Linked DNA regions of Homo sapiens. The protein of the gene in region 4 interacts with the protein of the main gene of each other region in a pairwise test. Each region holds a gene or a part of one and is shown on either strand. Other genes may lie near its edges. The genes, in order: SLC16A11, NCSTN, SLC16A13 and BSG.

Region 1 (7,470 bases), on a different chromosome or scaffold from region 4:
GTTGCTGTGAGCCAAGATCGCGCCACTGCACTCCAGCCTGGGCAACAGAGGGAGACTCTGTCTCAAAAAAAAAAAAAAAAAAAAAAAGAAGGAAAGAAAAGAAATTGAGAGAATGCTGAGGACACAGGGTATAGATGTGTGAATAGCTTTGATAGAGCTGAAGTCTGGGCCTAGGATTCTTGTATTTCCCTCAGGCCCATAGAAGGAGATTGAAATGCAGGGAAGAGTTAAGTCTGGGAGGTCTGGGAACTAGGGTAAGGGACATGAAGATGGGGCAGATAGCACCCACTAGCAACCCGCCCCCAACCCCAGCAACACACTGAAACTGGCTGCCAGACAACTTCGCAAAGATTCCCTGTTACGGCCAGGACTTGGGCAAAGAGAAATGGATTGGCTGGACAGTCACCCTTCTTCATACCCAGGGCCTTCTGGGATCCTGTTCCTTTGAACCAGCCTTTCTGGCTGTCTTATGTAGAATATTTTCAGGGTCCTAGATTGGTGAACAGTTGGAGGTTTCAGGAAAACCCGATAAAAATTCTTTATTGGGGGAGGGGCTCAAACAAGAAAATAATCAACAAGTGGTGTCCAGAGTGGAGCCAGGGCCTCCTGGGGACAGCAAGACTGCCTGGGGAGCGGGAAGCAGCTCCCCCGTCTCTGGGGGAGGCGTGGCTGGAGGGGAGGCTGGACCACAGGAGGGCAGCGCCCTGGGCAACCCTATGTAGATGAAGCTGCCGGAGAGGATCAAAGAACCAGACAGGAGGAAAGAGGCGGTGAAGTCTCCTGTCTCATCCCTTAGGAAGCCTGAGGAGATGGGTAAGGGCATTTAGAAGCCTCGAACCCCAGGGGCAGAGGATAGTTGTAGGCAGATCTGTGAGCTCAGGTCCTTACCTGACAGGGGAGGGCCCAGGAGCCCCCCGAGGCTCATCAGCATCATCACCAGCCCTGTGGCCTGCACCACACCTCCGACGCCCACCAGCCCGGGGAGTACACCGAAAACCAGCGGGGCGTAACTCCCCGCGCTCAGCCCATAGGCCACAGCCGCGGCCAGCAGGGGACCCCCCCAGCTCTCTTCGCCGCCCACCACGGGCACCAGCCCCACCACCCACAGCCCCAGCCCAGTCAGAGCCCCGAATACGGCCAGCAGCCGCGGGAGGGGCACCCAGCCTTGGTCTGCCAGCCACCCGCAGACCAGCCGGGCGCCCGCATCCCCCATCGCAGCCACGGCCACCACCAGCGCTGCTCCGTATCCCCCCAGGCCCCGGTCTAAAGCGTGGGGAGCCAAGTGCACGTAAGGAACGAAGTACCCGCCCCCAACCAGGGCTGTGCCTAGAGCAAAGATTGAGAAGGCCCGGCGTGTGAACAGACTCAGGCCGAGGGCAGCTAGGGGACTACGCGGTGGGGCTGGGGGGTCTCCAGGAAGGACCAGGGGTAGCAGCAGGGCGCCACAGGGGGTGAGGTGGAGGGTGATCGCGCCGAGGAGGAGCAGAGCGCCCCGCCAGCCGAAAGTATCGAGAAGAAGCTGCAAGGCGGGCGCCAGGAGCAGCGAGGAGGCCCCGTTGCCGGTGAGCGCCAGCCCCACCGCCAAGACTCGACGGCGGGAGAAGTAACGCGAGAGGGTGCCTAGGGCGGGGGCGAACACCAGGGCCCAACCAAAGCCTGCGAATGAATAGGAGGGGATGGGGGCCGGCACTGGGGACGCCCGCCCCAGCATTCCCAGCCCGGCTCTCCGCACCAGGCCCCCGCCTCGTTCGCTACCCCAGATCCCAACAAGCTCCTGTCACCTCCTTCACCCTGAATGACCCGGGCATCCCACTTCCCTCACCAGCGAGGAGGCCCAGGCCGAGGTAGAGATGCAGCAGATCGCTGGCGAAAGCCGAGAAGACGAAGCCCAGCGAGGCGAGGACGCCCCCAACCATCACCACGGGGCGGGCCCCCCAGCGCGTGCTCAGGGCGCTGCCCACGGGGCCTGAAAGGGGGCGGAGTCAACGGAAGACACGCCCCCGGGCCCCCAAACTCTCTCCAACACTTCTCATTGGCTGTTTGCCTCCCTCGAACTAATGGTTCTTCTCCTTGACCTCAAGATGCACTCTTTTCTAGAGCCGGTTGCCCTTTCTCAGGTTGTCGGGTAATCAGGTGGGTCTCCCATCCCTCCACTCACGGCTCCTCCTCCCCGTTCCTGTCTCCCGCCTCAGGGCCCCCCTCACTGGCTGCCTGCTGCACGGCCAGGGCCAGGGCGCTGATCCACGCAGTGTCCTGGGCGCTTCGGTCAAAGTGCTCGGCAAGGTCAGGGAAGGCAAGGCCCAGCGAGCGCAGCAGCCCGTAGGACAGCCCGTTTATCGCGAAGGCTGCGGCCGCCACCACCCAGCCCCAGCCCCCATCCGGGGGTCCGGCGGGCTGGGGGGTCATCGCCGTCTGCGGGGTGGGGAAACATCTGTGAGAGAAGCCTCCACGCCTGTGCTTCCGCTGGGGAGCTGGCATCCCTGAGATCCAGCCTCTGGCTGCTCGCCCGGGGTGGGCCCGTCACTCCGAGCGCGATGGCGCGGGGCGGAGGGAGCCGGAGCCTGGCCTAGGGCTGGAACTCCCGGGTCCGCGCGAGGTACGGGGACGGGGACAGCCAGATCCCCAGGCCCGAGGTTCCCCGTCCCACGCACACTCCTTCCCCCTTACCCGACCTCTCCGGGCGGTGCGGGGAGGGGAAGGGTGAGGAAGGGCTGGGCCCGGCTTTCTCTCTGCTTCCCAGGCGGGCGGGGGCCCCGAAGGGGAGCGAGGGCAGCGATGGAGCCCAACTTGGACGGGCTCTCTCGGTAAACAGAGATCACCACAGGGGCCTGAGCCACCTGGGACGCGGGGTGTACGGAGGGCGGGGGCGAGCTGAAACAGCCAATCCGGCAAGCCGCGCGTGAGGCCAGACGCCAGTCCCACGGGGATTGAATTATGTACACACACAACCCCCAGGCCCGGGGGAGGGGGGAGCGGCGAGAAATGAATGCAGAGGGGCCCTGCCCTACTCACACGCATGCACCTGCCGCCTGCTGCGCGCAGGGGAGACACGTGGATTGCAAACCCCAGCGAGCCCAGGGTCCACCGCCAACGCGTGGAAATAGGGATGGTCCCCAAAACCTGAGGGGATGAGTAGTTTTGTTCTCAGGAACGTTGCCGAGGACCAGGTAAATCTCGGATATCAATCAGATCACAGACCTCCACCAAGTGCCAGCTCTGTGCTTAGAATAACAGACCCCCAGGCCGGGCGCGGTGCAAGCCTGTAATCCCAGCACTTTGGGAGGCCGATGTGGGTGAATCACCTGACGTCAGGAGTTCGAGGCCAGCCTGACCAACATGGCGAAACACCATATCTACTAAAAATACAAAAAAAATTAGCCGGGTGTGGTGGCGGGCGCCTGTAGTCCCAGCTACTTGGGAGGCTGAGGCGGGGAATCGCTTGAACCCGGGAGGCAGAAGTTGCAGTGAGCCAAGATCATGCCACTGCACTCCAGCCTGGGTGACAGAGAAAGACTCTGTCTCAAAAATAAATAAATAAACAAAAATAAAATAAATAAAATAAAATAACAGGTCCTCAAGGACAGAGGGATGAAACACGACTCCCTCAATGTGAAGACCTGCAGTGTACCAGGCACCGTTTACACATGCTATCACTTCATCTTATGATAACCCTATGAAGAAGGTGTCGCTTTTCTTTTTTTTTTTTTTTAGATGGAGTTTCACTCTGTAGCCCAGGCTGGAGTACAGTGGCGAGATCTCGGCTCATTGCAACCTCTGCCTCCTAAGTTCAAGCCATTCTCCTGCCTCAGCCTCCTGAGTAGCTGGGATTACGGGCGCCTGCCACCACTCCCAGCTAATTTTTGTATTTTTTAGTAGAGATGGGGTTTCGCCATGTTGGCCAGGCTGGTCTGGAACTCCTGACCTCAGATGATCCGCCCACCTCGGCCTCCCAAAGTGCTGGGATTACAGGAGTGAGCCAACGCGCCTGGCCGATGTCGTGCCTCTTTTATAGATGCAGTAACTGAAGCTCTCAGGGAAAAAATGGTATGGATATTTGAATTTAGGTCTGTCCAACTGTGGACCTACAAGGAGAACAATCCCAGGACTGAAACAAAATCTGGCACAGTTAAGGGAAAGATCCTGGATACAGCTTGAAGCAAACTGCCCTGGAAAGGGTGGAACCATTGCAGGGACAGAAAACTTATGAGTCTAAAATAAGGGGTCACTGGGAATAGAAAGGATTCTTGAGATCAGAATCTCTAAACACTTAGGTTAGAATTTTATTTTTTATTATGTATGTATGTATGTATGTATGTATGTATGTATGTATGTATGTGTGTGTGTATTTATTTATAGAGACAGGGTCTTGTCCAGGCTGAAGTGTAGTACTGCCATTATGGCTCACTGCAGCCTCCACCTCCCAGGCTCAAGCAATACTCCACCTCAGCCTCCCGAGTAGCGAGGACTACAGGCTCCACACCACCATGCCTGGCTAAATTTGTTCATTTTTTTTGTAGAGAGGGGGTCACAGCATGTTGCACAGGCTGGTCTCAAGCTCCTGGACTTAAGCAATCCTTCCACCTCGGACTCCCAAAGTGCTGGGATTACAGTCTACCATGCCTGGCCAGGTTACAATTTTAAAAGCAAAGTAAAAAATCAGGTCATTGAAGCCAGGTATTGATTTTTTGAAAAACTTTATAGAAAATGTCCTTTTTTGATAGGTTGACATTCTTTACCTCAGCTCTTTGAATTCAGAGATGTGTTCTTTGGTTTAATTATTAAACAATATGATAGAACATTCAGCAACTTAAGTTTGGAGCATGCATCCATTGAGCCACATGATGGCAGTGTTTCCTAATTATTGGGAAAGAATCTGCACGTAAAGACAAGAAAAACAGCTTCTTAAGGAGCAAAACTGTAAACATAAAAGACACAGCATGACTATAGGCAATGGCTCTCCATTGCCTATAGACGGGAAAAATTACATTTCTCTATTTGTACAGGTCTTTTACAATAATCAAAGGTAGACCTAGGTTACCGTTCCAAACCATCTCCCCTCTCTCCCTTTTGCCAGCCTCCCATCAGCCACTGTCTTCTCTGCTCTGTGGACATGCCTAGCTTTTTCTCACTCCTTAATTTTTGCATATGTCATGCTCTCTGCTTGAAACGTCCTGTTGTTCATGAAGGTCCTGACAGACACACCTTAGGAAAGTGGCCCCACCGGTTTCCCCAGCCTGGAGTGCTGTTATGAAAGCCACCAGGGAGGCGGAGCCAGCAGGTCCTCAGCTACCGGGGAGGGCAGGGATCCCGCTTCCTGAGAAGGCTGCTGAAGACTCTGCTCCAAGCTAAACGAATCACTGTCTCCCCATGGTGACGCAGAAATGCAGGACAGTCAGAGCGAAGACCGGGCCCTCCGCATCTGGGAGTTGTGCTAAGTGATGCTGCGCACCTTCGCAGGATGCTTACGAAGCCAGAAGGGTATCCCAGAGCCTGGGACTAGGGCTGTGAAAGAGCACATTCCTCTTCTACCTCAGGCTCCCTATATTCTTAGCAAAACTTGTCATCTTTTGCTCACGGAGGTAAAATAGCACAGAGATTAGGAGAATGGACTCCCAAGCTAGATTTCTTGAGGTTGAATGCCAGCTCTACTGTAGGGTCTAGCCCTACGGGGCTTGGCGGGTGTTTTCCCCGTGTGCGGAGATGAGAGATTGTAACAAATAAAGACACAAGCCAAAGAGATAGAAGAAAAGACGCTGGGCCCTGGGAACCACTACCATCAAGACGCGGAGACCGGTAGTGGCCCCGAACGGCTGGTTGCGCTGATATTTATTGCATACAAGACAAGGGGGCAGGGTAAGGAGGGTGAATCTTCTAAGTGATTGACAAGGTGCAGCAAGTCACGTGATCACAGGACGGGAGGGCCCTTCCCTTTTAGGTAGCCGAAGTAGAGACAGAAGGCAGCATACGTCAGCGTTTTCTTCTATGCACTGATAAGAAAGATCAAAGACTTTAGACTTTCACTATTTCATCTACCGCTCTGTACTACGAACTTCAAAGAGGAACCAGGAGTACGGGAGGAACATGAAAGTGGACAAGGAGCGTGAGCATTGAAGCACAGCCCCACAGGGAGGGGTTTAGGCCTCCGGATGACTGCGGGGAGGCCTGGATAATATCCAGCCTTCCACAAGAAGCTGCTGGAGCAGAGTGTTCCCTGACTCCTCCAAGGAAAGGACACTCCTTTTCGCGATCTGCTAAGTGATGGGTGTCTTCCCAGGCACTAGCGTTACCGCTTGACCAAGGAGCCCTCAAGCGGCCCTTATGCGAGCGTGACAGAAGGTTCACCTCTTGCCTTCTAGGTCACTTCTCACAATGTCCCTTCATCACCTGACCCTATACCTGCCGGTTATTCGTAGGTTATATTAGTAATGCAACAAAAAGTAATATTAAAAGCTAATGATTAATAATGTCTATAATAATGATTGATAATTGTCCATGATCATCTCTATATCTCATTTGTATTATGACTATTTTTATTCTATTTTCTTTATTACACTGAAACAGTTTGTGCCTTCAGTCTCTTGCCTCGGCATCTACGTAATCTTTCGCCCACACTCTACCACTTAGTAACTATATGATTATGAGCAAGTGTGACTCAACCTCTCTGTGCCTCGGTTTCCTCATCTCTACAATGGGGGTAATAACAGTAGCTACCTGATGGGTTGTTATAAGAATTAAATGAGTCACTGTGAATACACATATAAGTAAGGAACTTAGAACAGTGCCAAAGTATACGTGTTAGAGCTCATTGCCGCTATTTTCTTTCTTTTTTTTTTTTTTTCTTTTTTTTTTGAGACAGAGTCTTGCTCTATTGCCCAGGCTGGAGTGCAGTGGTACAATCTAGGTTCACCACAACCTCTGCCTCCCAGGTTCAAGTGAATTCTCCAGCCTCAGCCTCCCAGGTAGCTGAGATTACAGGTGCCCGCCACCACACTCAGCTAATTTTTTTGTATTTTTATTAGAGACGGGGTTTCACCATATTTGCCAGGCTGGTTTTGATCTCCTGACCTTAAGTAATCCACCTACCTCAGCCTCCCTTAGTGCTGGGATTACAGGTGTGAGCCACCGCGCTCAGCCTCCATTGCCGCTATTGCTGTGAGTTGAGGAACCTGGCTGGACCTAACAGCACGGCAGCCCTTTCCCACCTGGCTACCTCTGCCCATGCCTCAAGGTCAAGGCACCACATTGCCCTGGTAAGTTCTCAGTAGAGCCACATGGGTTAGAAAATGTGAATGGCTATAAAGAGATTCAATGGAAATTTCTGCTTTTCTTCTTTCTTTTCCCTTAGCATTTTCCAAAGTTTGTGTGAAAATGCTGGTCTCCCTGCCTTAACTCTAAAAACAAAAGAGAAGGCCGGGCGCAGTGGCTCACACCTGTAATCCCAACACTTTGGGACGCCAAGGCAGGTGGATT
Region 2 (7,551 bases), on a different chromosome or scaffold from region 4:
GAAATTATACAGCACTTTTGAGACCACCCTATTTACCTAGCGTCATCAATAAACAACTATTAAGAGGTATTTGACTTTCAGCTTTATGCAAGTACTCCAACCATTATTCCAGGGGTAAACTGAAATTCAGAGGTGATCAATTTGATGATGAAGAAGCCAGTATCAGACCCCAAGTTTCCTGCTTATCTGCAAAACTACATTCTGACAGAGCTATTGTCCATGGGAAACAAAATCTGAAGACAGCAGGTTAGCCTTTAGATTACTACTTTTCCTGCCCTATGATTTTGATAGTTTTTAAAGCCACAGTGTCATGGAACCTTCTTTTGGAACACACAAAGTGTGAAAATAAACGGCCTGTCAGTTGAATTTAAGGAAAAAAAGTTTTAAAAAAGGATAAATAGAATGCTTCACTAATTCCTCTTGCAATTATTCAGCATTTTCTTTTTTTTTTTTTTTTTTTTTTTCAGACAGTGTCTCACTCTGTCACCTATACTGGAGTATGGTGGCACAATCTCAGCTCACTGCAACCTCCGCCTCCTGGGCTCAAGGGATTCTTCTGCTTCCGCCTCCCGAGAAGCTAGGACTACAGGCATGCCATAGCAGCCAGCCGGCTAATTTTTGTATTTTTAGTAGAGATGGGGGGGTTTCACCATGCTGGCAGATTGGTCTCAAACTCCTGACCTCAAGTGATCCACCCGCCTTGACCTCCTGAAGTGCTGGGATTACAGGCATGTGCCACTGCGCCCAGCCTATTTGGCATTTTCAGTGCCTTCTCTTCAGATAGTTCATTGCCTTTAGCCCATTTTGGTTCCAAAAAGTTCAGAGTGCAAGTGATAACTGGACACCATAGAATATGAGACTTTTTTCTCCTTAAAAAACAGTATAATAGGGTGGTTAAGAGTGCTGGCTCGGCTGGGTGCGGTGGCTCACGCCTGTAATCCCAGCATTTTGGGAGGCCAAGGTGGGTGGATCACTTGAGGTCAAGAGTTCGAGACCAGCCTGGCCAACATGGTGAAACACCATCTCTACTAAAAATACAAAAATTAGCTGGGCATGGTGGCAGGTGCATGTAATCCCAGCTACTCAAGAGGCTGAGGCAGGAGAATCACTTGAACCTAGAAGGCAGAGGTCACCGTGAGCCGAGATCGTGCCATTGCACTCCAGCCTGGGGGACAAGAGTGAAACTCCGTGTCAAAAAAAAAAGGTCTCTCAGCTTAGTGCTCGGGCCACCAGATCCTGGCATCATCACTTATTACCAGTATGATCTTGGGAAAGTTACTCAACTTCTTTAAGTTTTAGTTTCATCATTTATAAAGTGACAATAACAGTAAGACCTATTTTGTGGGGTTGTGGTTGGGGTTGTATGAGATGCACATGTAAAAAGCTTGGTATGCAGCATTTACTAAATGTTAGTTCTTATTAATTATCTTGCCTAGCTTGACAGACGGTTATCTGTAACTGCCTACATACAGTCCAATATAAGTGTCAAATCTCCTAAGCAGGACATGGATGTTACTTAGTATCTAGGGCACAGACAAATATCAATGTCCACAAACATGAATCCATCTCAACTCACACTGGCAGCCAATCTGATGAGTGGCGTTGAGCAGGCGAACACAGGGAGCTGTTTTATTTAAGGGGATATATATCTTCCTCTCCACTGAGTTTCCCCTGCACAAACCTGATCGGAAGATAAAAAGTGTTAGAAAAATTTGAGAGACACAGGTACTAGCTTCTATCGTGTCATTAACCTGAAGTATGGCTTGGGTAAATCATTTAATATCATACTTTCTAAAATGAGATTAAAGTCCATTCTTCTGATTTCTTGGGCACACACTTATCGTAACAGATACATGTTCTACATGGCACCCAGCTATGTGCCTCAAAGGGTTATTACAAAGTCCATGTAGCGCCATTGACAGTGACACTAAAAGAGAGAAAACTTGGTCAAAGGAAAGGTGTTTGACCTTAGATTTGCCAGATTCTGGTTGCACAGGTGATCACACTTCTGCTTGTATATCCTGTATGTATATTACTAATTGGTTAATACACAGGTGCTGGGCTAAGAAAACTTTCTGAGGCATTTTTCCAAGAGTGTGAACAGAATTGAGAGAAACCTTATGACATACACGGGTCAGTTAATTTAACATCAGCAGGTCATTTGTGTGCCCACAGTGTGGGGCAGCTGTAGTTTCTCCTTTGAGGATCCTTAAAAACAATGTGAATTGGGGGAAGGCACAGTCATAGTTATATACAGGCATTTGCATTTTAGGGCTTGACCAACTAAAAAGCCATGTATCAGTAAATGAACGCGTATCAGCAAACACTTAAGTACATTATAAATGCCAAAAGTTCCTTGAATTGTTACTTCAGGGTCTTCACAGTTAAGAGTACCCATATCCTACCTTATTCTTGCTTTACTGATTAAAAAAAAAAAAAAAAAAAAAACCTGAGGCAAGGCAGGGGGACACAGACTTAGGATGTAATCAACAGAGGAAGAAATAAGAAATCCACCTTTTAAGCGCCGCACAGCACCCACAGAACAAGATTGCTTTCGTCTCAAAAAGTCTAAACGCGAGGAAGAAAGCTAACTTTCACACCTGTTCCTTTCGACTGTGGGGTGGGTGGCTGGGGTTGTGGGAAAAACGAGACATCTGGACAAAGTGGGAGAGGGTCAGGCTCGAAGTCCAGGAAGAGGCCTAGAGAAGGGAGTGAAGCGACACGACGTGCTGCGGGGGAGAAGGGACCTTCAGGTCCAGGCAAAGGGGGAACTTCTGTCGTGGGAACGAAAAAGAAAGAGGATTTACAGGGTGGGGGGACAGAGGGGCAGCAGGAACCAGAAGGGAGACAGTGGCGGTCGCGGCGGGGCCGATCCGAGAGTTCCCCTTAGAGAACGGAGCTCACGGGCGGGGAGGCCTCACCTGCTAGTAGGACGCAGAAAGACAGAAGGCGAAGGAGACCCCGACTTCCCGGGTCAGCCCCAGAGCCACCCCCTGCCGTAGCCATCTTGCCTCTCTGCTGAGCGGAAGCCCCCGTTCGGCTCCTGTCTGTTAGCGGCCTCTCTAGGCTACCACTGACACCGTCTCTGTGGCCCGGAGCCTAAGAGACCGGAAGTTCGTGTTTCCAGGCGCTTCCGGAAACCGCGGGAGAGGGTCGCTGACGTGGAGGCGTCCGAAGGGCAGCAGGGTGTGTCGGGGCTCGGATTAAGACATCGGAGTCGGAGACCTGAGAGATGTTAACCAAATTCGAGACCAAGAGCGCGCGGGTCAAAGGTAGTGGAGAATAAAAGGGGGAACATGGAGGTTGGATGTCAGGAGCGGCGCTGACACCGGGGAAGAGAAAATGGGTAGAGGTGTTGGTCGAAATGGGCCCACCAGACGGACCCGGAGGAAGACGGAGGGTGGGAGAGAGGTTGGGCCTGGCTAGCGGTTCTCCAGTCCCCTCTTCTTTGGTGTGTCCTTGGGCTTCGATTTACCTATAAAGTGGCTCCCACACTGCAGGGGATTCCTTAGACCCCCTCCCTATTCTTTCTTCCCCCTTTCTCTCTTGGCTGTGCTCCCGATTTGTGTTGTTCTGCTCCAAAGGCCCTGTGATCTGTTGGCTTTTTGATGACTGTGTTATATGGAGTGGCCCTGGGAACTGAGTCTCGATCTCTGTTACTCGCACCCGAGTCAGTAGCCTTTTTGGAGACGAGTAGTGGCAACCTCACTTAAGGAGGCCTTGGCTGCAGCATCTCAACATCAGTGCCTCCATTCGGCTTTATTTACTACCCGGAAATAGTACTTGAGGCTTATAACCCCAATAAAGTCTCAACTTGATAGAGTTGCCAGATAAAATGCAGGATACCCAGTTAAATTTGAATTTCAGGTAAACAATGAATAGTTTTTTAGTCTGTCGTTGCTTACCAGAAGTTCAAATTTATCTGGAAATCTCGTATTTTTATTTGCTAAGTACGGCAGCTCTAGAGCTCGAGTGTGGGTCGTTGGGGGTGGAGGGCAAATACTGAGATCGCAGTATTAGCCTCAGAACGTTAGAATGTGAAAGTCAGAGAAGTAAGGTCTCCGAAGACCTGGAAAAAATAGTATCTAGAATATTTAGTGAGATGCAGCGTAACAAAGTGGTTAGGAACTTGGTCTTTGAAGTCAGATGGGCTTGCCTTGGAATCCTGAGACATCCACTAACAAGCTGTGACTTGGATGACTTACTTAATGTCTCTAAGTCTGTATTTCCTCATCTGTAAAATCGTCTTTTATAGAGAGTATTAAAATGAGAAAGTATATGGAGTGTATTTATTACAGCGCCTGGTGTAGACTCAGTAGCTCAAAAACTGGAGGTTGTTATCAATGTGTGAATATATTCTGAGCAGTTTCTAAGTCTCTTGGGAAACTTGACCTTGAAAGATGGGTACCATTAAGAATTTCTGAGACCTGTATAGGTGAAATGTGAAATGGGTCTTCATAATCTTTCAGTTTTCTTTTCTGCTCCTAATTTCTTGCTGGGCAGTACAGAAGGAAAAACAAAGATGTCATAATATTTGAGGGCAAACATCCATTGTTGAGTGTACTTATATATCATAATTAAAAAAAAGAACCTAATGGAAAAATAGACAATTTAGAAGAAAAATTGTAAATGTTCAATAAATAATTAAAATAGTTCCACCTCACTAGTAATGAAAGAAATGCAAGAAAAAAAAAGTTAAGTTACTTTTTTGGGGGGAGGGTCTTAGATTTATAAAACAAAACAACAAATAGCTGATAGCAGCCTGTGTGCAAAATGGGCACCTCCATAAACTTCATGAGACTGTATATTGATACAGTGTTTTTACATTTAAACTATATGTACTAAAATGTTAAGTGCACATATTCTATTCCTGAGCAATCTCACAGGTCTTTAGCCTAGGGCAGTAATAATGCAAATAGGCTAGATTATGTGTAGAAGTATCTTCAGTAGGCTCTTCTGATAGCCAAAAATTGGCGGACAAAATGCCTGTTAGAATAATATAAGTGTAGTACATTTGTCCCTTGTAGTTAAAAAGAATGAGGTTATGTTTATATGTACTTCCATGAGATCCATATTATATAGTTAAGTGAGGAAGAAGTTTGCAGAACAACATCATAACGTGATCCCCACTTTCATAAAATACTAAAGCCTATGTCTATGTGTAACTGCATTAAAAATCTGAAAGGATACACTTCAAACTGTTAGTAGTTGTTACCTCTGGGGACTTCCATTTCCAGTCATGATAGAATAACAAGAGCCAGATTTACCTTCCCACCTTAACTATACAACTGAACAAAATGTATGAAACAAAGGTTCATACATTGCTCACAGATGTTGGGCAACAGGCAGTGCAGGAAAATAATTCTCCAGAGAAGGCAAATAAACAAGGTGAGTCCTGTGATTGTCGTAGATTACTGCCTAGAGAGTTTTTAGGCTTCAGTGAAGAGGGGAATCCCTTGGTCTTTCTGAGGAGACATAAATTTAGAGTGTGGGGAAGCAAAGATGGCTAGATTTTGTTGGGCAAAATACCGGAGAAGAGGGGGCTGCAGAGAGAGAGCACTAGAGATCTGCAGGATGTCTTCTCAGGTCTTTGTTTGAGTACTGATCTGCATGTGAGAAAACTATTCAAAACCTGAAAAAGGACCACTGGAAAGGAGAAGGCAGAGCAATCCCCAGAGTTCACACTAGTGAACTGGGACTAGTTTGTGTTCCTACTTGCCAGAAAGGAAAGACTTCCTAATATTACAGGGCTTCAAATAGAGACCTCAGATGGCTATTGCTTTAATAGTGGTTCCAGATTAAGCCTAGAATGAAGGCTGCTGTAGCCCCTCTGTAATAAAACCTAAAAGCAAGCCTTGAAAGGATCAACTGATTCCAAGTAACTTAATTGTATCCTAGAGCAAAGCCCAAGAATATGTAAAGGAATATGACAAAAATCTAGTACCAAACATAAAATTCACGATGTCTGGCATCCAGTAAAAAATCATCAAGCATGTCGAATGAATGAACCTAGGATTAACCTTGATGTTTCTTTTTCTTATCAGAATTGACAGAAGGTGACATCATGGGGCTTAGTTAGCTCATTGTATCATTTTCTATTTTTTTCAGGGCTCAGCTTTCACCCCAAAAGACCTTGGATCCTGACTAGTTTACATAATGGGGTCATCCAGTTATGGGACTATCGGATGTGCACTCTCATTGACAAGTTTGATGAACATGATGGTGAGATATTTCTAGGAGGAAGTTAAAGGAGTATAAGTATTTATAATATCCTGGGGTATTTTAAGCCTTGTTTGACATGGATTCCTCTATGATTAAAGAATGTGGAAATGATAGAACTGAAAAATCCTGAATAGGAATCACCTTAGAGATTAGAAAGGATAGCTCTGTCTAACATACATTGCCTGCCTTCTCCACCAGGTCCAGTGCGAGGCATTGACTTCCATAAGCAGCAGCCACTGTTCGTCTCTGGAGGAGATGACTATAAGATTAAGGTACAGAGGGTCTGTCATAACTGAGAATAAAGGAAAGAGGATGTGGGAAGGTTTGGGAATCATGAAAGGAACTGAAAGACAGGAAATTTCATTCATACAGAGCTCAGGCCTTTGACAACATTATCCGGAGAACTTACTCAGCAAACATTTATTGAATGCTTACTGTGTACCAGACACTGTTTTCTTTTTAGGGAATTCAAAAATAAATAAGAAATGGCTTCTGTTTTCAAGGAGCTTTTATTCTAATACAGAAGATAAACATATATCCAAGTAATAGCATGTACAGTTTGGTAAGCAATATAATAGAGAGATATTCACAGTGAAATAGGAAAGAGCAGTATAGGTGCAAAGACAAAAAGCATGACACAGCTAGATACAGGGCAGCTGTTATTGGTTTTGTATGGAGAAAACCTGGAGAAATGGTGAGAGAAGGGGCAGAAGATGAGAGGGGCCAGATCATGGAGTACCTGTTTGTGGCGCTCAGGAGTTTAGATGTTATCATGCAGATAACTAGGAGCCATTTGAGGAACTTAAATACAGGAGTGATACCAGATTTATATGTTTTTAAAATGATTACTTGGTGGTAATTAAAGAAAAGATTGGATGATTTGGGCAAGACAGGAGGCAAAAATACCAGTTAGGAAACCTGAGCTTAGGTAGTAGCATTTGAAATGGAGAGAAGGAGATGGATGTGAGAATTTAAGGAAATGAATCAGTGTGTCTGTTGGGTGATGGCCAATAAGGAGAAATAAATGAGATGGCCAATAAGGAGAAATAAGGGCCAATAAGGAGAAATAAATGAGCTGACTTTCAGGCTTCTAGTTTAGGTCACTGGGTAAAGGGGGTGTCATTAACTAGGAAAGGAAAATCAGGAGGAGATAGTTTTCTGGAGTGGAAGAGAATGGATAATGAATTCCATCTTGTCTCTGGTGATTTTGAGGGACCTAAGGGACAGTCTAGTTGAGGTGTCTGTGCTAGAAATATATTTGTGATTTGTCGTCATGAAGGGAGGAGCCAAAGGAGAAGCAGTAGAAGATATTGCTCAAGGAGTACGTTG
Region 3 (6,902 bases), on a different chromosome or scaffold from region 4:
TCAGGGATGCTATGGTTGGCCACGCAGGCTGTGTACTGTACTACACCAGAGGGCAATATTCACATACACTGTAATGAGAATAGTACCCTCCCCTAGTTGTGCAACATGGCAGCCCTCACCCCCTGGGAACCCCATTCCACTTACCTGAGAGAGGAGGCCCCAGCAGCCCCCCGATGCTCTCTATCATCTGCAACAGTCCCAGGCCACAGTAAATCCTTCTAGTCCCTATTAGTTCAGGCAGCACGGAGAAGGCCAGTGGGGCCAGAGCCCCTGATGTGAAGCCGTAGGCCACAGCCAGAGCCACCAGGGCTGTGGGAGCCTGAGCTACAGGGAACAGGGCTAGTGACACCCCAGTCAAGGTGGTCCAGAGCATCAGGAGTCGTGTCACAGGCCCTGGGACTGCATCTCCCAGCCATCCGGAGACCACACGCCCCACGAGGTCAGAAATAGCAACAACTGAGAGTAGGAAGGCAGCAGGTAGTGGGTCCCAATCCAGGTCCTGGAGATGGGCCACCAGGTGGAGGTAGGGAATGAAGTAGCCAGTGTTGATCAGGGTGAGGGCAACAGTGTAACGGAGGAAGGGGCCATGATGGAGGAGAGAGGTGAGTTGGGCCCTGGGACCACCCACAGCAGGGTCCTCAGCCAGGGAGGGTGGGCGGAGGAGAGCACCACAGGCCACTAGGTGGAGGGAGAGGGCAGACACCAGCAGCAGGGACCCCCTCCAGGCGTAGTGGCTGAGCAGCCACTGGAAAAAGGGGGCAAATGTGAAGGAGGAGAGGCCCACGCCTGTCAGTGCCAGCCCGGTGGCCAGGGATCGTCGGCGAGAGAAATAACAGGACAGGCAGGCCAGGGTCGGAGCGAAGGTCAAAGCCCAGCCAGAGCCTGTCAAAAAGGAAGAAGTGGTGTTGAGAACTCTTAGGGAGCTCAAGGCACACAGTAATCCCCGCATTGCCCAGCAGCAGAATGTAGCACTTGCTTCGGAGTCCCACAGACCTGGGATACAATCTTGGCTTGGATACTTCATAGCTGTGTAACCTTGTGTGTTTTACTTAACACCCCCAGCCTCAACCTTCTCAACTGCAAAATGTAATAATACACTTTTTGGGATTGTGGAAGATTAGAGACAAAGTTTGTAAGGTAACTAGCACAGAACTTTGGAGTTAGACCTGGGCTCTACCATTTCTAGCTGTGTGACCTTCATTTGCCAAGTTGTATAAGCTTTAAAGCTTTTCCCCAGCTGTAAATCCAATAATGATATCGATTTCACAGTCACAGTACCTAGCACCTTTTTTTTTCTTTTTTTTTTTTGAGACGGAGTCTCGCTCTGTCGCCCAGGCTGGAGTGCAGTGGTGCAATCTCGGCTCACTGCAAGCTCTGCTTCCCGGGTTCACACCATTCTCCTGCCTCAGCCTCCCGAGTAGCTGGGACTACAGTCACCTGCCACCACGCCCAGCTAATTTTTTGTGTTTTTAGTAGAGACGTGATTTCACCGTGTTAGCCAGGATGGTCTTGATCTCCTGACCTCGTGATCCGCCCGCCTCGGCCTCCCAAAGTGCTGGGATTACAGGCGTGAGCCACCGTGCCTGGCCCCTAGCACCATTTTATAGTAATTCTTCCTTTTACACTCCAGTCCCATTAGCCCTGGGCTTCTGGGCTTGTATACTTGGTTTCATCTTTTTTTTTTTTTTTTTTGAGACAGAATCTTGCTCTGTCGCCCAGGCTGGAGTGCAGTGGTGCGATCTTGGCTCACTGCAACCTCCGCCTCCCGGGTTCAAGCGATTCTCCTGCCTCAGCCTCCCGAGTAACTGGGATTAGCGCCACCAGGCCCGGCTAATTTTTGTATTTTTGTAGAGACGGGGTTTCACCATGTTGGCCAGGCTGGTCTCAAACTCCTGACCTCGTGATCCACCCGCCTCGGCTTCCCAAAGTGCTGGGATTACAGGCGTGAGCCACCGTGCCCGGCCAGGTTTCATCATCCTTGAATTTCCTAATTCCTCACCATGTTTGTCGCTTTAGTCATTCCTATTAAGAATTCCCTTCTGGGTACAGGTGCTAGCTAAACTTTCCCTCAGCTTCTCCCCGAACCCTTTGGAAGGAGCAGGAAGGAGGTGAACATCCAACGATCTAAGCATTTGACTCTCCTGCCCTTGTGCAGGCTCTCACCTGACAGCAACCCAATACTCAGGTATAGGTGGGTCAAGGAAGTAGCAAAAGAGGCGAGCAGCATCCCCAGCGCAGCCAAGATGCCTCCAGTCATCACCACGGGCCTGGGCCCGAACTTCGTGCTCAGGGCACTGCCTACCGGGCCTGAGGAAGTGGAAGGGGCGCTGCGAGAAGATCTCAGGGGTCTCCCCCCCAGCATCTCCCGCCCCTCGCCCTTCCACTTCCCAGTCGCCGCATTCCCTCTCCCTTCCGAGGGTCGCAGTCCGCCAGATCCAGGCGCCGCACTCACTCCCAAACTGCTGCACCGCGATTCCTATGGAGGCGATCCAGGAGACGCGCGCTGCCTGCTCCTCAAACGCCGCCACAAACTCCACGAAGAAGACCCCAAAGGAGCGGAGCACCCCAAACACAAGCGCCGACTGGAAGAACGCTGAGAGCACCACCACCCATCCCCAGCCCCCGTCGGGGGGCTCTGTCCTGCGCGCCATCTAAGCGGTAACAGGGCTGCTGCCACCCAGAGCCTCTGCAGGAGCCGGGTTCTGGACGCCGCACCTCTGCACACCCACCCCCGCTGCCGGGTGGCTCGGGGCCGAGAGGGGTTGGAGAGGCAGGTAGAGAGGAAGGGCCCGACGAGGCGGCGAGAGGCCCCTGCACCTTTTCCCAAGGCGGGGCGATATAGGACTGAAGACCTGGCCCGCGCTGGCCGGGCCAGAGTCTCCCGGGGGCGTGGTTCCGCGAGCTCGGAGCTGAGCTAGTTCAAGCCGGGGCCGGATCGGTCCCGGTTCGGTGTTCGGCTGGGAGCCAGAGGGTGGAACTGAGTTTGGGCCCCACCCCTGGAGCGCGCCAGTTTCCGTGTAGATGATCTATTTTATCACTGGGGTGTCCGGGCCGGGCCACCCTGGAGCTCGCCAATGAGGACGCGGGGCTCCCGGGCAGGGGCGGAACGAGAAGGGCAGGGCGGGATTTAGGCATTGTTGGGGACCAGCAGTGAATGGGCGCATGCGTAAGGAGGGGCGTTAGGAGGCTGACTAGGTAGGGCCCCACGTGACGCGGGGACTGCCAGGAAGCTTCCGTCTCCTCTTCACCTAGCGGGCCAAGTCATCCCCGTTTCAGCACCCAGAGCCACACGGAAGGGTTAGTGGTGGGTAAACTGGGTCTGGAGAGGAGAGGACTCTCTTGCTTTAATGAGGGGTCCAGGAATTGCAAGGCCCTGTTGGGGGTAGGGGAGGGGTTAGGAGATGAGACTCAAACGAAGTGTTTGGCGCAGCGCCTGAAGCCACTAACACGCAGCCCTAGGCACGCAGACCTAGAAGCCTGGATCCCTGAGAAGTTCAACGGCTAAGGGAAGAGAGAAGGGGAATGAGTTGGACTCCTGGCGTTCATTTCTGTAGTGGGAACTCGTTCCTGTCACTTCTGTTCCCACTAACAGGAAACCTACAGGTCACAGAGACCAAAAATAACTGAGGAGAGGAAGGGCGGCTGTAAGCTCACACAGGGCCCCACCAACACCACCTACCTCTTCCTCACTGGGGCTGGAACCTTTTCCTCTGCCCTCTAGTAACAACCACTTCCTAACCACCTTTTTTGATCTGATGGTGGGGTAGACTAAAGAGACAAACTATGACCCTGGCCACTGGAGCAGTCAGCCCCCTCTTACCCAAGTAGTCCTCAGGCCCCTAGCAAACACTCCCCAGTCCTTCCCAGTCTCCATAACACCAATGGCTTGGATTTCCTGTTCCTTCATTATAAGCCATACTTCCCAGGACCCTGACCTTGAAACCGTGGACTCAATGTTCACTCCCAGATTACTGGGGAAAGCAGCAAACAAGAAGTGGAGGCAGGGAGGGAGGTGTGTAGTCTTAAAAGACATATTGAGCCTTAAATAATTTTATATGTGGGAAATAAAAGTAATCATCAATAATACACATATATACTTTCTAAGAGTCAAAATGTCGGCTGGTGGGGAATATGCCAAAGATACAGAAATTGCTGTGGCTGTATTACATAGTGATTAAGAACTCGGGTCTTTAGAATCAGATCACAGTTCCAGTCTTTTATTTATTTATTTATTTATTTATTTATTTATTTATTTATTTATTTTGAGATGGAGTCTTGCTCTGTGGCCCAGGCTGGAGTGCAGTGGCATGATCTTGGCTCACTGCAACCTCCACCTCCCGGGTTCAAGTGATTCTCCTGCCTCAGTCTCCTGAGTTTCTGGGATTACAGGCTCCCACCACAACGCCCAGTTAATTTTGGTATTTTTAGTAGAGACGAGGTCTCACCATGTTGGCCACGCTGGTCTCGAACTCCTGACCTCAAGTGATCCACCAGCCTTGGCCTCCCAAAGTTCTGGGATTACAGGCGTGAGCCACCGTGCCTGGCCCAGTTCCAATCTTGACTTTATTACTTAACTCGATCAAGATGCTGAATCTCTCAGTTGGTTTCCCCATCTGTAAACTGGGGATAATAGTACCTACTATTAAGCGTTGCCCAAGGGGTTCAGTTAGAAAATCCATGCACTAAAAATGCTTAGTTTATGTGCTGACATGCAGCAGGAGCCAAGTAATATTAGCTTAGCTGGTCTTATTGGTGTTATTTTCAACAGGGGATAAGCTGCTGTAGTGGGAAGTGAAGGAAGGTTTTAGTTTAGTGTTTTTTTTTTTGTTTTTTGTTTTTTGTTTTGAGATGGAGTTTTGCTCTTGTCTCCCAGGCTGGAGTGCAATGGCATGATCTCGGCTCACTGCGACCTCCACCTCCTGGGTTCAAGTGATTCTCCTGCCTCAGTCTCCCGAATAGGTGGGACTACAGGTGTTTGCCACTATGCCTGGCTAAATTTTTTGTATTTTTAGTAGAGACAGGGTTTCACCATTTTGGTCAGGCTGGTCTCGAACTCCTGACCTCAGGTGATCTGCCTGCCTGGGCCTCCCAAAGTGCTGGGATTATAGGCGTGAGCCACCATGCCCTGCCTAGTTTTTGTTTTTTGATTAAAAAAAAAAAAAATCTAATCCAGGTCATGGGTTTAAAAAGATTGAGAAACGACCACTGCGATGGTTTGAATGTTACCTCCAAAAACTCATATTGAAACTTAATCCCCAACTTGGCGGTACTGAGAGGTGGAAACTTTAAAAGGTGATTGGATGGGATTAATGGATTAATTAATCCCCATGAATTAGCCCACCATAATGGATTAATAGGTTAACAGATTAACCCCATCATAAAGGACTAAAAGGTTAATAGATTAATGGGTTATCATGGGAGGGGAATTGTCGGCTTTTTCAGACAGATCCAAGCTAGAACATTAGCATGCTTAGCCCCCTTTGCCATGTGACACCCTGTGCCACAGAGAGTCCATATCAGCAAGAAAACCCTCACTAGAGGGTGAGGCCCCTGGACCTTGGATTTCTCAGCCTCCATACTATAAGAAATAAATTCATTTTCTTTATAAATTACCCAGTTTCAGATAATCTGTTGTAAGCAACAGAAAATGAACTGAATGAGACAGAAAACTGGTACCAAGAAGTGGGGTGTTGCTGATAATGAATAACGGAAAATGATGAAGTGGCTTTGGAAGTGGGTGATGGGCAGAGGCTGGAAGCATTTGGAGGAGTAGGCTAGAAAAAGCCTAGATTCTGGAGAGGTCTTAGAAGACAAGAAGACTAAGAAAAGTTTGGAATTCTTTAGAGATTGGTTAAGTGTTTATGACTAGAATGTTGATAGAAATATGGAAGCAGCTGGGCGGGGTGGCTCACGCCTGTAATCCCAGCACTTTGGAAAGCTGAGGTGGGCGGATCATGAGGTCAGGAGATTGAGACCATCCTGGCCAACATGGTGAAACCTGTCTCTACTAAAAATACAAAAATTAGCTGGGCATGGTAGCACTCGCCTGTAATCCCAGCTACTCGGGAGGGTGAGGCAGGAGAATCGCTTGAACCAGGGAGTCGGAGGTTGCAGTGAGCCGAGATCGTGCCACTGCACTCCAGCCTGGGCGAAAGAGCGAGACTCCATCTCAAAAAAAAAAAAAAAAAAAAGAAATATGGAAGCAAAAGCCATTCTGATGAGCTTTCAGATGGAACTGAGGAGCAAGGTATTGAAAACTGGAGTAAAGGCCATCCTTGTTACGAACTGGCAAAGAGCTTGGCTAAACTGTATCCATGCCCAAGGGCTTTGTGGAAGGCTGAAGTTGAGAGTGATGAACTAGGGTATCTGGCAGGCAGAAGACATTTCTAAGCAGCAAAATGCTGAGGCTGCTGTGTGGTTGCTTCTAACTGCTTAAGATGATCTCACAGAGAAAAGAAACAGAGTGGAAACATTTGGAAAATTCTCAGCCTGGCCATGTGGTAGAGAATGAAAGAGCATTTTCAGGAGATGAATCCAAGGGCGTGGCCAAGCCACTTCTTGCTAAAAAGATTAACATGGCTAAAAAGGAGCCAGGTGCTCTTCCTCAAGAAAATGGAAGAAAGTCCCTGAACTCATTTCAGAGGTCTTTGAGGCTGCCCCTCCCATCACAGGCCCAGAGGCCTTGGAGGACAGAGGGTTTCAGGGTACAGGCCCTGGGTGCTCTCCATGGGCTCACCGCCCAGGGCAACCTCAGGACTCTGCACCCCACACCCCAGTGTAGCACTCTGTGGCCACCCCAGCCTGGTGGTGGCTTAAGTGGCCCCAGGTGTTCCTTGTGTGTGTGTGTGTGTGTGTGTGTGTGTGTGTGTGTGTGTTGCTTGTATTGAAGCTCCAGAAGGTGC
Region 4 (7,021 bases):
GGAGGAGCTCCCGCCCACCGCACCTGCCTCAGGAAGAGTTCCTCTGGCGGACGTTCTTGCCTTTGTCATTCTGGTGCTGCCCGCTGCTCTTCCTGGGGCACGAGGGGCCGGGTGAGAGGGTGTCCCCCGCAAGTCACTCTCTCCAAGTCACCCCTGCCCACCCCGGCCCCCAGGACCCCCGAATACTGAAGCCCAGGGGCTCTGCCTTTGTGTTTTAAAGGCCTGGGGCAGCAGGCCGCTCCTTGGGACCCCCGACCCCCACAGCTGGAACTTACAGGGGTGCAGAGCCGGCGTCGTCATCTGAAGAAGGACCGCCGCCATGAAAAAGAGGACGAGAGGACAGCCTGTCAGCACTGGCCCCACTCAGGCCCCGAGCAGGGGCATCTGTGCTGCCAGCCCTGCCCTCAGTGACCCCCAGGGGTGGCTCGGGGCAGCTCATCAGCCCCGGCCACGTGCATCTTCTGAGTGCTGTGGGGAAAGGCAGCCCTCCCCACCTGCAGGTGTGCTCCCCATGGTGAGCTGTCCCCATGGCCTCGTGGGCCTCACCCCTGCCCCACAGCGTTTTCCAGGAGCTGCCATCACAGGCCCCACACAGGCCTCGCCCCGGCACACGCAGCCCAAGGGGCAGAAGGGCTCCGCGAGGAGGCAGGCAGGGGCTGCCGGAGCACAGCATGGCTGACCTCAGGTTCCCGAGCCTGATCATGCAGAGCAGCAAGGGCCGGCTCACCACGGAGGACACTGGCTTGCAGCCAAGTGAGCGGGAGGGAAGGGCCGGGTGAGGCTGTGGGGCGGAGGTGCCGCCTCCTCCTCCCGGGGTCCCGCTGCCCACTGAGCCGCAGCTGCCCGGGGCTAGACCCTCCATCCCACACTTTCTTTCGGGGTCCCATCAACTCCCTGCCTGGGGCTCCTCAGTTCCAAGCTCTGGGTCAGCGGTGGGGCTGGCAGGGACGGACCAGGAGTGGCCCTGGGCCACCCCGAGAGCAGGGCATGTGGGCAGGAGGGCAGACGGCTCACCATCCAGGACGTCCTCGGGCTTCCGGCGCTTCTCGTAGATGAAGATGATGGTGACCAGCACCAGCACCTCAGCCACGATGCCCAGGAAGGGCCAGAGGGCGGCCAGGTGGCTGCGCACGCGGAGCGTGATGATGGCCTGGTCGGAGCCCTTGGAGCTGGTGCCGTTGCACCGGTACTGGCCGGGGTCGGCCTCCATGTTCAGGTTCTCAATGTGTAGCTCTGACCGGCCCTGCGAGGAACTCACGAAGAACCTGCTCTCGGAGCCGTTCATGAGGGCCTAGGGGACCAAAGGCAAGGGCTGAGTCCAGGACCCCCAGTCTAGGCCCCTCACCCAGTCCTGAGGGCTGAGTCCGGGACCCCCAGTCTAGGCCCCTCACCCAGTCCGGAGGGCTGAGTCCGGGACCCCCAGTCTAGGCCCCTCACCCAGTCCGGAGGGCTGGGTCCGGGACCCCCAGTCTAGGCCCCTCACCCAGTCCTGAGGGCTGGGTCCGGGACCCCCAGTCTAGGCCCCTCACCCAGTCTGGAGGGCTGCAGTCCAGAGGGCTGGGTCCGGGACCCCCAGTCTAGGCCCCTCACCCAGTCCGGAGGGCTGGGTCCGGGACCCCCAGTCTAGGCCCCTCACCCAGTCCGGAGGGCTGGGTCCGGGACCCCCAGTCTAGGCCCCTCACCCAGTCCTGAGGGCTGGGTCCGGGACCCCCAGTCTAGGCCCCTCACCCAGTCCTGAGGGCTGGGTCCGGGACCCCCAGTCTAGGCCTCTCACCCAGTCCTGAGGGCTGGGTCCAGGACCCCCAGCCTCCTTGGCTTCTCACCTTGTCCTCAGAGTCAGTGATCTTGTACCAGGCCCAGTCAGTGACAGGTGGCACGGACTCTGACTTGCAGACCAGCATGGCCGTCTCCCCCTCGTTGATGTGTTCTGACGACTTCACAGCCTTCACTCTGGGAGGCCCTGACAGGAGGGTGAGAGAGAGGAGCCTGGAACCGCAGGCCCGCCCCCATCCCCGGCCTCCCGCAGGAGGGCTGTTCCCCTCCAGGGAGCAGGGGGCCAGGGCTCTGGGATGTGCCGGGTGCCTCAGGCCAACAACTTCTCCCGACAGTCGGTGGTGCCCGGTACCCCTGGCTGCAGGACTCACCGTGGAGCTGGATGTTGGCCGTGCCCATGGGCTCGGGGAGGAAGACGCAGGAGTACTCTCCCCACTGGTCGTCGGAGTCCACCCTGCAACCACAGCAGGCAGGTGAGCCGCGTACCAGCTCTGCAGGACGCCTCCAAGGACCCAGGGTTCTCCAGGGGCCCAACCACGGCACAGTGAAAAAGCAAAACTGTCCCAGTCAAGTCTGAACCTCAAAAGAACTCCTGGGGTCCCCGTGCGGCCCCAAGGACAGAGCCAGGCTGGCAAGACCCCACAGGTGAGAGAACCAACAGACCCCCTTCTCCCCGACTGATGAACCCCACACCTCTGGTCCCTGCTCTGCACCCCACACCCTGTGACCGTCTTCCCAGTCAGCCTGAAAACAAAAGGCTCTGTGCTCCCAGGGCCGTCCCAGCCCCAGTTATGACAAAGCTCCGGCCATGACAGCGTCTGGGGTCCGAGCAGGGCATGCCTCAGTGTGGTGCCCTCTTGTGCCAGGAGCACAGAGCCTGGGAGGCCCGCACACGTGCCCGGGACCTGGCAGTGTGGCGCCCTTTCGTGCCCGGGACCTAGTGAGGAGCAAGCAATGGGGACTCCTGCCAGGGCTGCTGGAGCCCCCTGCCTCACAAGGACGCCCCTCAGACCCCTCCCTGGGGTTTCCCTCTGGGGGTCTGCGCGGAGCTGGTCCCTAACTTCCGCCTGGATCAAGCCTGCCGACCGGTCTTTTGTTCTCACGGACCACAGGCCGCTGGCGGCAAGAGAGCCGTGAGAAGGGGCAGGTGGCGGCATGGCGTGGTCAGGCACTCACTTGAACTCCGTTTTCTGGCCGGGCAGCGCGTCCTCCTTCAGCACCACGCCCCCCTTCAGCCAGCGGTGCCCTGTGACCTCTGTGGCGCTGTCATTCAAGGAGCAGGTGAGGAGTATCTTGGAGCCAAGGTCTTCTACGGTAGTGAAGACTGTGCCGGCTGCAAGGCCCGGCGAGACGCGGTCAGCAGAGTGGAGGAGCACGGCCCGCGCTGCCTGCCTGACCCCCAGGAACCTGCGGCTCCTCCCCGGGAAGGACTGGTTTTCATCCCAAAAATACACCGTGGCCCTTACGCCCCGAGGACCGGAGGCCCAAGGGGAACTTCTGGCCACGCCTCCGGGAAGGGAAGAGCCCAGCGCCTGCTGAGGAGGCCCCTTCGGGAAGGCACCCCCTTCGGGAAGGCACCCTTCGCTGGCAGCTGGCGGGCCCTGGGCTAAGGCGCTGGGAACCCAGAGGCCCCGCCTGGCGATGTTCCTGCCCAGAGACACACGAGGCTGGGACCAGGGTGTGGGGACAGACAAGGCACCCACCCACGTCCCTGAGCAGGGACCAGGGCATCGAGCTCTTGTAGCAGCCCCAGCACAAACTGGAAATTCTTTTCTAAAAACGTAGCCAGCTGGGCGCGGTGGTGGCCGGGCGCGGAGGCTCACGCCTGTAATCCCAGCACTTTGGGAGGCCAAGGCGGGTGGATCTCGAGGTCGGGAGATCGAGACCATCCTGGCTAACACGGTGAAACCCCGTCTCTTCTAAAAATACAAAAAATTAGCTGGGCATGTTGGCTCATGCCTGTAATCCCAGCTACTCAGGAGGCTGAGGCAGAAGAATCGCTTGAACCCGGGAGGCGGAAGTTGCAGTGAGCCGAGATTGTGCCACCACACTCCACCTGGGAACAGCAAGACTCCATCTCCAGGAAAAAAAAAAAAAATAGCCACAGCACCCCCGGCCAAGGCTCCCGTGCCCTTCTCTAGGAGGCACTCAGGTGGCCCCACATCCCCCCAGCCCCAGGCTGACGGCACTCCAGCAGTGCTGGGAGCACCCCGGTTCTTCTGCCAATCCCCAACCAAGCAAATCTCTTGGTTCTTGGTTAGTTTACAATATTCCCGCTAGGAATTGAAATTTGAAAATCCCTTAGAACGAGATGCTGCGAAGGACACAGAAGGTTCTGAGACCTGCAAGCCTGGGCTGAGCTTGGAGGGCCCCTCAGGCTTGCAGTATGGACGCTCAGGGAGGGAGCCGGGCAGGCGCCCGGGGAAGCAGAAACGACGGAACGGATGGCACGAGGGTCGAGGGGAGGACGAGGACCCACCTGCTGGAGGGCAGAGCCCTGCCTGCCCCGAGCCAGGCCGCCCAGCGCTGGTGGTCAGGCGGCGAGCCCACCCCCTTCAGGTCCGGGCCCCTCCGTCCAGGCGGTGGGCCCAACGGGGCACAGCGGGACGGAGAGGGGAGGAGGCGTCTGGGTTCTACTGAGCAGGAGCCGGGAGGCGAGCGGCACAGGAGGGAAACTGAGGGAGGCGGGGAGGGAGGTGCCCGCCACTCACGTTCCAGGACTAGCACGACTGCCTGGGCGCGGACCCACTTGACCCTGGGCGCCCGGGTCAGGTGGTTGCGATCCGGGTCGTTGCTGGCCCGGCACTCGTAAGTGCCCGTGTCCTCCTCCACGAGCGTGTCGATGGAGATGGTGCTGGCCGCGTGCTGGTGGTAGGTGGCGTGGATGTGGACGCGGTCCAGCCGGGCGCCGTCCCAGAGCTGGGAGCAGGTGTCGTTGGGACCCTGCCCTTCAAACCACCACTGGATCTCGGGCACCGGGCTGCCCACGGCCTCGCAGTGCAGCTCCACACTGCCCCCCACCCACCTCTGCTGGGACAGCGGCGCCTGGACGAAGCCGGCTGTGGGGAGAGCACGCGTGGGGTCTTGTTAGTGCCTGGGGCACTTGGGAGGGCAGCTCCTGGGGAAGGCCTCGCCCACAGGACTCCCAGCCAGGGCTGGTGGAGAAGCCACTTCCTTTCAGCTTGTGGGAGAGTGATGGGGCCCGGCTGGAAACAGCATGGCATGGGAAAGACCGTGGGCGTCCCGTCCACTGCTACCTCACGGCAGCCACGGCGGCTTCTGAGGGCACAACTGTGGGACCACACGTGGTTTCAAAACACAAAACACATGAAACTGGGCAGAAGAGCCAGGAGTCCTGAGCCCCGAGGGCTGCCCAGAGCTCAGGTCCCAAGCGCACCGTCCTCTGACTTCTGCCCGATACCCTGACCCCAGAGACCCGGGTGAGCTGCTGAGAAAAACAAACCCCAAAGCCCAAAGGGGCAGGCGGCCTCTGTCCAGAAGCCCCTAGCCCGGCTCCGTTAGGACAGCCCGTGGGTGGAAAGCTCGTGTCCTCAGCAATCTCTGAGGGCGGCGACCCAGAGAGAGGCGGATTTGGGAAGCTGGGAGCCAGGCAGGGCCTCAGGGCCTCTCACCTCCAGCCACACGCCTCCCCTTCCTTCGAAATGCAAGGGAAGGCCCCCAGAGCTGCCAAGGAGCACAGCAGAATCCACACAGAACCTCACACTGTGCCTAGCACTCGCCTGCCAGGAACAGCCCAGCCCAAGGGGAAGCGTGGGGAGTGCCTCCTCCCGCCAGGACCTTGCAGCCCTCCCCACAGCACCTTCTGAGGTCAGACTCCCCAGGCACCGCTACAACACACACACACACACAAGGACACACGTCTGCAAACACACACAACACATACACACGTGCATATGCGTGCACACGGCTCCGAGGCTGCGTGGCAGTGCACAGGTCACGGCCCCCAAGGCCACGGGGACAGGAATGTTCACGTCTGAGCACCTCAGGTGAGCTCTGGGCAGGCGCAGTTGACAAGTTTTGGCAGCGCCATTTTCTTTCTCCTCTTCTTCTTTTTTTTTTTTTTGAGACAGAGTCTCACTCTGTTCAGCAGTGGTGTAATCTCAGCTCACCGCAACCTCTGCCTCCCGGGTTCAAGCAATTCTCCTGCCTCAGCCTCCCAAGTAGCTGGGATTACAGGTGCCTGCCACCACACTCAGCTAATATTTTGTATTTTTAGTAGAGACGGGGTTTCACCATTTTGGCCAGGCTGGTATTGAACCCCTGACCTCGTGATCCACCCTCTTGGGCCTCCCAAAGTGCTGGGATTACAGGCGTGAGCCACCGCGCCTGGCTGGCAGTGCCATTTTCACAAAGGGATCTCCTCCTGGTAACCTACATTTCTTGGGAGTTAAGATTTCCCAGACTGCAACACTGGCAGCTATGTGCAGAGCTGGGCGAGGTGAGTCAGGGCAGGAAGCACAGCCAGAGGCTGCCCAGCTGGCAAGCTCCTTCCTGCCCTGCAGCAGCCCCTCTCCTCATCCTCCAGACCTGCAGGGCTGGGCTCCACATCCTCCTCACCCAGGGGTGCTAGGAGAGGGCTGGCCCCTGACTCACCTCACCCCACCTCCAGGCAGGGCAGGGCACACAGGAAAGTGAGGAGGACCAGGTGGGGCCCGCAGCCGAGCTGCCCCCAGCCACCTTTCCAGGAGTCCCGGGCTCCCAGGCGCCATCTGCACCGGTCCCGGTGCTCCCGCTGGGTCCGCCAGCTTCTCAGCGGGCAGCATCGCTCCCAAAGGGACCAAAAGGCTTTGGATGGAACAACCCTGTGTCCCTCCGGATGCTGATGATGCTGGTGTCTGTGTATTGACGTGTCACTGGGGGTGGGGGGGCGTCCGGAAGAGAAAGCCTCCATAGAGGCTCCTCGGGGACAATGCAGAGCGCCCCCACCCCACGGACCACCCCATCTCGCCCGCCGCACCAGGAGCCTCCACCCATGAGCAGCAGGAGGAGGGACGGCGCCTGACCCTCGGCCACAGCCCCAGAAAGGTTAGAATTCGATTCTGGCCACATGAGACGTAACCCATGTTCTCAAGTAAAGTCACCTTCATCTAAAAACAGCCTCCGCCTCCTTGCCCAGGGCTCAGGGCCAGGCAGGCCGCGTGGTACTTGTACACAAGCAGCCCCGCAGGATAAGGCTGCCCGCCCCCACCCGCCCTCCTCCCCACCCACCCCAGTGCTCAGACAGCAG

What was found.
Region 1: the proteins of BSG (region 4) and SLC16A11 interact in binary tests that used the Homo sapiens proteins (3 or more experiments, as listed by UniProt).
Region 2: the proteins of BSG (region 4) and NCSTN interact in binary tests that used the Homo sapiens proteins (3 or more experiments, as listed by UniProt).
Region 3: the proteins of BSG (region 4) and SLC16A13 interact in binary tests that used the Homo sapiens proteins (3 or more experiments, as listed by UniProt).

The regions. Positions count from the first base shown.
Region 1 is NC_000017.11:7,041,108-7,048,577, forward strand, and holds SLC16A11 (monocarboxylate transporter 11), read right to left. Parts: upstream 2,986-7,470; 5' UTR 2,668-2,985; exon of another isoform or gene 2,413-2,667; 5' UTR 2,407-2,412; coding exon 2,205-2,406; intron 2,134-2,204; exon of another isoform or gene 1,967-2,133; coding exon 1,823-1,966; intron 1,657-1,822; coding exon 889-1,656; coding exon of another isoform or gene 824-888; exon of another isoform or gene 802-823; coding exon 572-801; 3' UTR 514-571; downstream 1-513. UniProt on the Homo sapiens protein: Proton-linked monocarboxylate transporter. It catalyzes the transport of pyruvate across the plasma membrane.
Region 2 is NC_000001.11:160,338,852-160,346,402, reverse strand, and holds the start of NCSTN (nicastrin isoform 1 precursor), read right to left. Parts: upstream 3,021-7,551; 5' UTR 3,007-3,020; coding exon 2,922-3,006; intron 1,928-2,921; exon of another isoform or gene 1,814-1,927; coding exon of another isoform or gene 1,789-1,813; intron 1,682-1,788; coding exon 1,577-1,681; intron 1-1,576. Other genes in the region: COPA (coatomer subunit alpha), read left to right, coding at 3,233-3,272, 6,109-6,222, 6,421-6,494. UniProt on the Homo sapiens protein: Essential subunit of the gamma-secretase complex, an endoprotease complex that catalyzes the intramembrane cleavage of integral membrane proteins such as Notch receptors and APP (amyloid-beta precursor protein).
Region 3 is NC_000017.11:7,032,132-7,039,033, reverse strand, and holds the start of SLC16A13 (monocarboxylate transporter 13), read right to left. Parts: upstream 3,020-6,902; 5' UTR 2,652-3,019; coding exon 2,453-2,651; intron 2,308-2,452; coding exon 2,164-2,307; intron 883-2,163; coding exon 145-882; intron 1-144.
Region 4 is NC_000019.10:575,585-582,605, reverse strand, and holds part of BSG (basigin isoform 1 precursor), read right to left. Parts: intron 4,833-7,021; coding exon 4,485-4,832; intron 3,107-4,484; coding exon 2,950-3,106; intron 2,228-2,949; coding exon 2,145-2,227; intron 1,961-2,144; coding exon 1,824-1,960; intron 1,292-1,823; coding exon 1,015-1,291; intron 301-1,014; coding exon 276-300; intron 93-275; coding exon 29-92; 3' UTR 24-28; intron 1-23.